3 separate regions of the Homo sapiens genome follow, and all the other regions are linked to region 3. Evidence: fine-mapped expression QTL. A gene starts in region 3. Each other region holds a variant in brackets. All regions are shown on one strand. Distances are between the middles of the regions. Region 1 overlaps FAM83E (family with sequence similarity 83 member E). Region 2 overlaps FAM83E (family with sequence similarity 83 member E). Region 3 holds the start of CA11 (carbonic anhydrase 11).

Region 1 (2,751 bases), 37 kb before region 3:
CGGCCGCCTGTGTAACAGAGCCCCGAGCAGCCAGACAGTGGGGGCCACCACCAGCCTGGCACTGGGGCTGGGTATGCTGCTTCCTCCACGTTTGCTGTGACCAACAGGGAGGACAGGGCCTGGGACTGTTCTCCCAGATCCGCCACTCCCCATGTCCCCATGTCCTTCCCCCACTAAATGGCCAGAGAGGCCCTGGACAACCTCTTGCGGCCCTGGCTTCATCCCTTCTAAGGCTGTCCACCAGGAGCCCGGTGCTAGGGGAAGCATCCCCAGGCCTGACTGAGCGGCAGGGGAGCACGGCCCGTGGGTTTGATTGTATTACTCTGTTCCACTGGTTCTAAGACGCAGAGCTTCTCACATCTCAATCAGGATGCTTCTCTCCATTGGTAGCACTTTAGAGTCCATGAAATATGGTAAAAAATATATATATATCATAATAAATGACAGCTGATGTTCATGGAGCATTCTTTGTTTTCTTTTCTTTTTCTTTTCCTTTTTTTTTTTTTCTTTTTGTAGAGATAAGGTCCAGCTATGTTGCCCAGGGTGGTCTCGGATTCTTGGGCTCAAGTGATCCTCCCACCTCAGCCTCCCAAAGTGCTGGGATTACAGGTATGAGCCACGGCACCTGGCCAAGCCTGTCTTACGTTACGTGCCACTGAATCCTCACACCAAGCTGGGAAGGTAAACACTCTTTCAAACATTTCAAACATCCTGGTCTCAACTCCAATCATTCTCAAAGTGTGGTCCCTGGACCAGAAACAGCAGCAGCAGCAAGTGGGAACTTCCTGAAAATGCAGATTCTCAGGTCCTGTTCCAGGCACGATGAATGGCAGTGGGGTCCAAAAGCTGTGTATTGTTCTCTCTTTTTCTTTTTGAAACAGGGTTTTGCTCTGCTGCCCAGGCTGGAGTGCAGTGGTGCAATCTTGGCTCATTGCAGCCTCTACCTCCTGGGCTCAAGCAATCCTCCCACCTCAGCCTCCTGAGTAGCTGGGACTAGAAGCATGCTCCATCATGTCTAATTTTTATTTTTTTAAATTTTTGTAGAGATGGGGTCCTGCTATGTTGCCCAGGCTGGTCTTGAAGTCCTGGGCTCAAGCGATCCTCCTGCCTCAGCCTCCCAAAGTGCTGGGACTACAGACATGAACCACCACGCCTGGCCTTTTTCCGTTTTCTTTTTCTTTTCCTTTTTTTTTTTTTTTTTTATTTTTTGAGACAGAGTCTCGCTCGGTCACCCAGGCTTTAGTGCAGTGG[C/T]GCGATCTTGGCTCACTGCAACCTCCACCTCCCAGGTTCTAGCGATTCTCCTGCCTCAGCCTCCCGAGTAGCTGGGACTAGAGATGCATTCCACCAGGCCCGGCTGATTTTTTGTATTTTTAGTAGAGACAGGGTTTCCCCATGTTAATCAGGCTGGTCTGAAACTCCTGACCTCGGGTGATCCACCTGCCTCGGCCTCCCAAAGTGCTGGGATTACAGGTGTGAGCCACCACGCCCAGCCCAAAAGCTGTGTTTTAACAAGCGCTCCCAGGGATTCTGGTGCATGCACAGGGTTGAAAGCCACTGTTCCTGAGCAGTGTTCTCAGCTGGGCACCTGTGCTCCCCAGTGGGCATCTGCGCTGTCTGGAGAGGTTTTCGGTTCTCTAATTGGCAGGGAAAGTCGGGGGTATGGGGCGTGTGATGCTACTGACCTCTGCTGGGTGGAGGCTGAAGATGCCGAGGAGCCTCCCACAATGCACCCAACAGCTCCTAAAACAAAGACTTACCCAGCCCGAGCGTGGGTGCCACCCCTGTTGAGGGACCTGGTTCTAGAGGCTCTAACCCTATCAGCCCATGACATAGAGGGGGAAACTGAGGCACAGAGAGGTGAAGTAAGTTGCCTGAAGTCACACAACGAGGAACTGAGAGAGCTAGAATTTGAATCCAGGCCGTCTGGTCCCAGAGGCCACACCCCTCTCCTCCCTAGCTGTGCTGTGACCCTGTGAGGTAGGTGCTGTTATTATTTGCAGTTTCTTTCTTTCTTTTTTTTTTTTTTTTTTTTTTGCTTTTTTGAGATGGAGTCTTGCTCTGTCTCCCAGGCTGGAGTGCGACAGCGCGATCTCGGCTCACTGCAACCTCTCTCCTGGGTTCAAGCAATTCTCCTGCCTCAACCTCCCAAGTAGCTGGGAAGACAGGGTTTCACCATGTTGGCCAGACTGGTCTTGAACTCCTGACCTCAGCCAATCTGCCCGCCTCAGCCTCTCAAAGTGCTGGGATTACAGGCGTGAGCCACCATGTCCGGGCATTTTCTTAGATGCTCAGAGAGGTGGAGTTATTTACCCGAGGCAGAGCTTAGATCCCAATCCAGGTGCTCCTGATTTTGAACAAACCCCACCCCCAAACTGTTTGCCCAGTTTTCCAGATAAGAAAACACCAGGTCAAAGAGAAGCAGACTTACCCAAGACCACTAAACAGGCCAGCACCAGGTCCGGCCGCGGCACCAACCTCCTCCGCAGGGAAGAGTGTTTTGCCCCCATTACACAGATGAGAAAAGAGAGGCCTGGGCAAGGGGATGCCAGCTGTTCTCTGAGCACACTGAGGGAAAGTGGGGTATAGGACGCCGGGAGGTGGGGGGCGGGGCGGGGGCTACACCTGTAGGATCCTGAGATGACCCTCTCGCCGTCCAGCAGCACAAACTTCTCCCGCACGGTGCCGCTCACCTGCCGTCGCCAGCGGCTCTGGAAGCTGCAGCCCCGCACGACACGGACATCCACGTTCTGT
Region 2 (2,751 bases), 33 kb before region 3:
GATGTCCCGTAGGGCACTGTGGGCAACTGCATTTCTGGGTCCTGTGGAATTTTCTGGGTGCTGGGTGCAGGACGGCTGACCTGCTAGGCCACCGTGGCGAACTTGGGGGACACGGAGGTGCTGAAGGCCTGGATCTTGCAGGCAGCATAAAGCAGTGGAAACCCTGACTCAGCAGCCAGACAGCCTGGGTTCAAATCCCCACTCGGCCACTTACAGGGAAGAGATTTAACCGCCCCCGTGCCTCCGTGGGCACAATAGTCCCTCTGGCGGTACAGGGTTCCGGGACGATGATGCACATTAGTCCCTGAGAAACCCTTCACGTGGGAGCTGGCGGACGCTAAGGCTGTGAAGTACACAGCAGGCTTTCCAAGGGCTGCAGTGTGGACATCTGGGCCTTCCTTGGAGGGAGAGTGGAAACCCCTGGCTTGGTGATGAGGGGATGGGGGAATGACTGAGACTGGGGGTGTCATAATTAGGTTCAAGGGGCATCGATACCTAAGGGCATCCAGGTCTTGGGGGAGGGTAGGGGCCCCCATTTCTTTCTTTTTTTTTTTTTATTGAGATGGAGTCTCGCTCTGTCGCCCAGGCTGAAGTGCAGTGGCTTGATCTTGGCTCACTGCAACCTCCGCCTCCCGGGTTCAAGCAATTCTGCTTCCTCAGCCTCCCGAGTAGCTGGGACTACAGGCGCCCACACCATGCCCGGCTAATTTTTGTATTTTTAGTACAGACGGGGTTTCACTATGTTGGCCAGGCTGGTCTCAAACTCCTGACCTCGTGATCCGTCCACCTCGGCCTCCCAAAGTGCTGGAATTACAGGCGTGAGCCACCGCGCCCGGCCGGGCCCCCCTTTCTGAGAGTAAGGATGAGGTCTGGGGTTGTAGGCACCTGAGTCCTGGGGCTGGAAGGTGTGCACTCCTGGGTCCCAGGGGTATAGGTCCTTTAGGGTAGGGGTGTGCGCTTGCAAGTCCCAGGAGGACAAGGGAGAGAATGCCTGGGTCCCCGTCCCAGTCTGGTGAATGGACACAGGGCCCCCGCGACACCCACCTTGTGGGCAGCCTGGATCTCCAGCCGCACCAGCTCCTTGAGGGGCGGCTGACCCTCTCCAGGAGGCTGGGTGTACAGCTGCGCCCGGGTGATGCCTTTCCACGCAGAGTCCACTGGCCAGCCCAGCCGCAGGACGGGCGCCGGCTGCTCCGACTGCCCAGGCCAGTAGCTCAGGCTGCCCGCGTCCACATCGGTGGTGGTGGCTCCCTCTGCCATCCCGCTGGGCTCCTGCTTGGCCACTGTCCAGTCTTCAGCTGCCGCTGCCAAGCCCTG[A/G]ACCTCATCCGCACTGAGGAAGGGCCACAGCTCCTCGCGCTGCACGCAGGTCTGGAACGCCTCCGCGCCCTTGCTCAACAGAGCCTCCAGTGCCAGCCGCTGGCCCTCGGAATATAGAAAGCCGGGGCTGGCCCCGGGCACCCTGGGACCGGAGTCCACTCCTTCCAGCGCCGCCAGCTGGGAGGCCGCCATCGGGGTCACTCGGGTGGGAGGACTGACTGTGAGAGGCTGGGTCCCCGGGGGTCTGGCTGTCTCTGGGGACTGTGATCATCTGGGGGTTCTCCTGATAGGCAGACCCTACGTGGCCATCCGAGGCCTCCGGCGGGGCCCTGCAGATGTCCAAATGGCTCCCTGCAGCAGCCCCTGCCACACTGTTCTGACAATCACGCTGCCCAAATAAGCGACCATCCAATGTGTCAGGCCACTCAGATCCGCCACCTGCCTGCACCCAGTGGCACCATGCCTGGCTGGCCTTCCGTGACCTTCCTGCCAGCCGTCTCTGCTGGTCAGGTTGACCTCCTGACACCATCCCCAACTGTGTGACCCATCAGCTGGCCATCTCTGCTCAGCCACACGACAGCCTCCAACCCACCAGTCACACAGTGCCCAGTCAGACCCTTCAGCTGTCCTGAATTTGGTCAGGCTGACCACTTGATCATTTCCAGGCGGCAAGCTGCCTGCCTGTCTCTAATCACCCAAAGGTCCTTAAAGGCACGACAGGTTGCCTGCCTGCCCCCGGCCAAGAGCACGACGAACTGACCCTCTCCTTCCACTGTCTGGCAAACGCCAATGGCTTCCGACTGACAGTCACAGTATCTGCCTGTTGGAGCATCTGTCTCTGGCCAAATCTGACAGCCCCCACGAGTTTCTCCTGCTCATCAGCTCTCACCCGCAGACCAGCCAGGATGCCTCTCCACTGGGCCTGCTCGCTCAGCCTTAAAGGCCGAAGGCTTGGCAAACCCTTCCCTACCCTGTCAATGGGGGACCCTGCTCCCTGGACCCTCCTCACACTCCTTCCAGCTGCTGCAGTGGAGGGTGAAATGCGCTACAGGGGTCTCCATTACTATGGGACAGGTCTATGATCTTCACAGCCCATCTAGGTGTGAGTGCCACCTAACCAGCCACCCTCCTCAGGCTGGCTGCCCCTGCCTGGGGCCTGGCCCTGGGACCTGTTCCAGGCCGTCCTCTGATCTGCGGGGAGCCCTACCCAAGCTGCCCCCAGCCTGGTTTCTGCCTAAATGCTATCTCCTGCCAGCTACCCGGACGCTTCTTCCCGGACAGGGGCCAGTCTCTATCTCGCCCTGTCTCCCTCCCAAGCCTCAGTTATCCCCTTGAGGCTCCTGACCCAACCTCGGGGACCCTGGACCCTTGATCCCTGCAAACCAGAAGCCCTTCATTCCAATCCCACCAACCCAGGCCGCTGCTTCCTCCAGA
Region 3 (2,751 bases):
AGATCCCAGGGGAGGAGGGGCTAGGGACCTAGACTCCTGGGTCTGAGGGAGGACTGGGCTCAGATCCAGAATTCTGGGTCCTAGAAGAATCTTGGAATAGTTTCCAAGTTTAGCAGAGACGGGTTTCACCAAGTTGGCCAGGCTGGTCTTGAACTCCTGACCACAGGTAATCCACCCACCTCGGCCTCCTAAAGTGCTGGGATTTCAAGCGTGAGCCACCGCGCCCAGCCGATCAAACCCATCTTAAGCCACTGTAGATGGAACTACAACTCCCAGCAGGCCCCAGTGCTACCAGCCTACCCCTCTGCTGCCTACCTGCCCCAGAGCCCCGTGGGAGTTGTAGTTCTTTTTTTTAATCGCTCTTATCCCACAGCTGGATTATTATTAATGTGTTGGGGAGAGGAGCTGCAAGAGAAGGCTGGACAAGGTGGGGGACGGGGCCACCCAGCCTCTGGTTCCTAGCAGGAGCCAGGACCTTCCTCTCCCGGCAAACACACACATAATCTCCACCCCCACACTTTCCTTCCACTCACTCCCACTCACTACTTGAAATGCGCATGTATAATGTCCCATGGTGAGCCCCTGGGGTTCAGAAGCTGGCCCGACTCCTGAGGGACAGAGGAGGGGGCTGGGACTCCTGGTCCTGGGGGGGAGGAGGGAGCTGGGAACCCAGGTTCCTGAGTCTGAAGAAGGAGGCGCCGGGAGGGCCGGACTCCTGGGTCCCCGCCTTGGCGGCACCTGGCACGAAGTTTCCCTGGAGATTATCCTTGTAGCTCCACCAGTCCTCGGGGTCAGGTGCTGGTCCGATGTGAGCTGGGAAGAGAGCAGCCTGAATCCCTCTCCTTGGCATCCCCACCTCCACCCTCCCTCGGGGGCTCCTCCCGGGAACCCCAGGTCTTACCTGCTGCCCCCAGTGCAGCCCAGAGTACCAGCGCTCGAGGGGCGCTCAGACGAGCTGCAGCCCCCATCCCCAGGAGGCCTCCGAGGGACCCCTGCCCAACGCCCTGCCCCCCTCTCTCAGCTCCTCTGTCCCCTCCTTCTGGGACCCTGTCCCTCCAGGACTTCCAGCTTTCCTCTCCTCCCCACAGGGAGTCCCAGTTCCCCAAATGCCAAAGCAGCCAGGGACTGAGATCCGCCCTTCAAACCCACTCTTCTTCTCTCTCCCGTCTCTCTGTGTCTTTCCTCTTTCCTCTGCTCTTTTCCCGGAACCCTCCAGTCTCCCTCTAGCTCCTGATCTTCCTACTCCTCTCAGCCTTCTGCTGCCCCCAGGGCTACCTCTTGGTTCCTAACCCACACCTCCTCTCCGTTCTCTTTTCATTAAGCTCTCCCAAGCCACCTAACTCCAGGTCTCCATCCCGCATCTCCTCCTCCTCCTCCCTCTCTCCTTTCCAGCTCCTGCCTCTTCTCCCCTCTCTCCTTCTTCACCTCCTCCCGCCCTCCCTCAGTGTCGGCCTCCAGCTTCGTGCTCTCCCCACCTCCTCCTCTCCTGCCTCTTCTCCCTGTTTCAGTCTCTCTTCTCTCTTGTCCCTTCCTCCCTCCTCCCCCTCCCTCTCTCCTCTCCCGTGGTGTTATTTAATTTTGTTGTTGGGCTGGGGGAGCAGGTGATCTCATAGCGGCAAACACTCCTCGGGTTGGCTTGGGGTGGGATGTGCGAAAGGGCAGGATTCGGAAGGAGGTAGGGGGCTGGTCCTCGGCTCCCAGCCGCGCTGGGGCCACGCGGGCGGGGGTGGCCGGGACACCTGGGGCCGGGAGCAGGCTGTTTCCATCCTCCGCAGCAAGGGGAAGGGGGGGCGCTTAAGGTGGAGCTGGGAGTGGCTTCGGAAGTCTCCATGCTGGGGGCCGCCGGCCTTGGCGGATGCAGGGTCCCCCTGCTCGCTGGGACCCAGGTTGGAGCCGCCCCAGCGCCCGCAGCCCCCCTTCCCCGCCCCAGGGCTCCACTGGGTCTCTGCCTGGGGCTGCCTTAACGGGGCCGGGGGATCCCCTAGGAGCCTGAAGTGCAGTGAGGGCTGCTCGCCTGGAGGGGGAGGCAGAGACCTGGCGAGGGAGAGAGGGGCGGGGAGGAGGAGCCGGGAGGGCAGAGGCGGAGAGCGGGAGGTGAGGACCCACATCTGCGTAGGCTGGGGAGGGGAAGGGAGCCTGAGATGGATACGGAGAGGAAGGGCGGAGGGACAGAAGGTTAGAGAGGCAAGAACAAACCGCCAGGCAGGAGTGAGGAGGAGGGGGAGGAGGTGAAGGAGGAGGGGGAGGAGGGAGAGGAGGGGGAGGGAGAGGAGGGGGAGGAGGGAGAGGAGGAGGGGGAGGGAGAGAGGAAGGAATGAATGAGAGAGATACAGATAGAGGCAGAAAAGGAGATACAGAGACGCAGCGAGACAGACATGGAGACATAGAGACACACACTTAGAGATAGACAGAAACTCAGAGACCAAGCAGCAGATGGGGTGGGGAGAGACAAAAAGAGAGAAAGAGCGATCCAAAGACAGAGAGAGACACCACATTTTTGTATTTGGGGAGAAGAGATGGGGTCATGCTATGTTGCTCAGGCTAGTCTCAAACTCCTGTCCTCAAGGGATCCTCCCACCTTGGCCTCCCAAAGCATTGAGATTACAGGCATGAACAACCATACCCAGCCTCAGAGAGACCACATATTACTGTTGTTGTTGTTATTTATTATTTTTCACCCCGTCTAATGGTAGTGAAACTGCTCATTGTCTTCTTTTATTTTCTTTTTTGAGACAAGCCTTGCAATGTCAC

What was found. PIP is the estimated chance that this variant, and not a neighbour inherited with it, causes the effect.
Region 1: its variant is fine-mapped to the expression of CA11 in whole blood (TOPMed, PIP above 0.99).
Region 2: its variant is fine-mapped to the expression of CA11 in whole blood (INTERVAL, PIP 0.99).

What each region holds. Positions count from the first base shown.
Region 1 is chr19:48,607,254-48,610,004 of GRCh38, forward strand. It overlaps FAM83E (family with sequence similarity 83 member E), which reads right to left. Exons shown (of 7, transcript NM_017708.4): 5 at 2,623-2,747. SPACA4 (sperm acrosome associated 4) reads left to right here. Exons shown (of 1, transcript NM_133498.3): 1 at 1-461. The coding sequence ends at 100. Among named protein-coding and RNA genes, the nearest start is that of SPACA4, 1.9 kb to the left of the region's middle. The variant C/T (reference allele first, on the strand shown) is at 1,252.
Region 2 is chr19:48,611,864-48,614,614 of GRCh38, forward strand. FAM83E (family with sequence similarity 83 member E) reads right to left here. Exons shown (of 7, transcript NM_017708.4): 3 at 1,045-2,751. The coding sequence starts at 1,509. Among named protein-coding and RNA genes, the nearest start is that of FAM83E, 1.8 kb to the right of the region's middle. RefSeq lists a silencer at 2,148-2,324 and enhancers at 2,629-2,751, 2,697-2,746. The variant A/G (reference allele first, on the strand shown) is at 1,318.
Region 3 is chr19:48,644,665-48,647,415 of GRCh38, forward strand. It overlaps CA11 (carbonic anhydrase 11), which reads right to left and starts at 1,523. Exons shown (of 9, transcript NM_001217.5): 1 at 902-1,523; 2 at 739-813. The coding sequence starts at 968. It also overlaps the pseudogene SEC1P. RefSeq lists enhancers at 1-152, 153-853, 854-1,554 and silencers at 1,512-1,701, 1,732-2,141.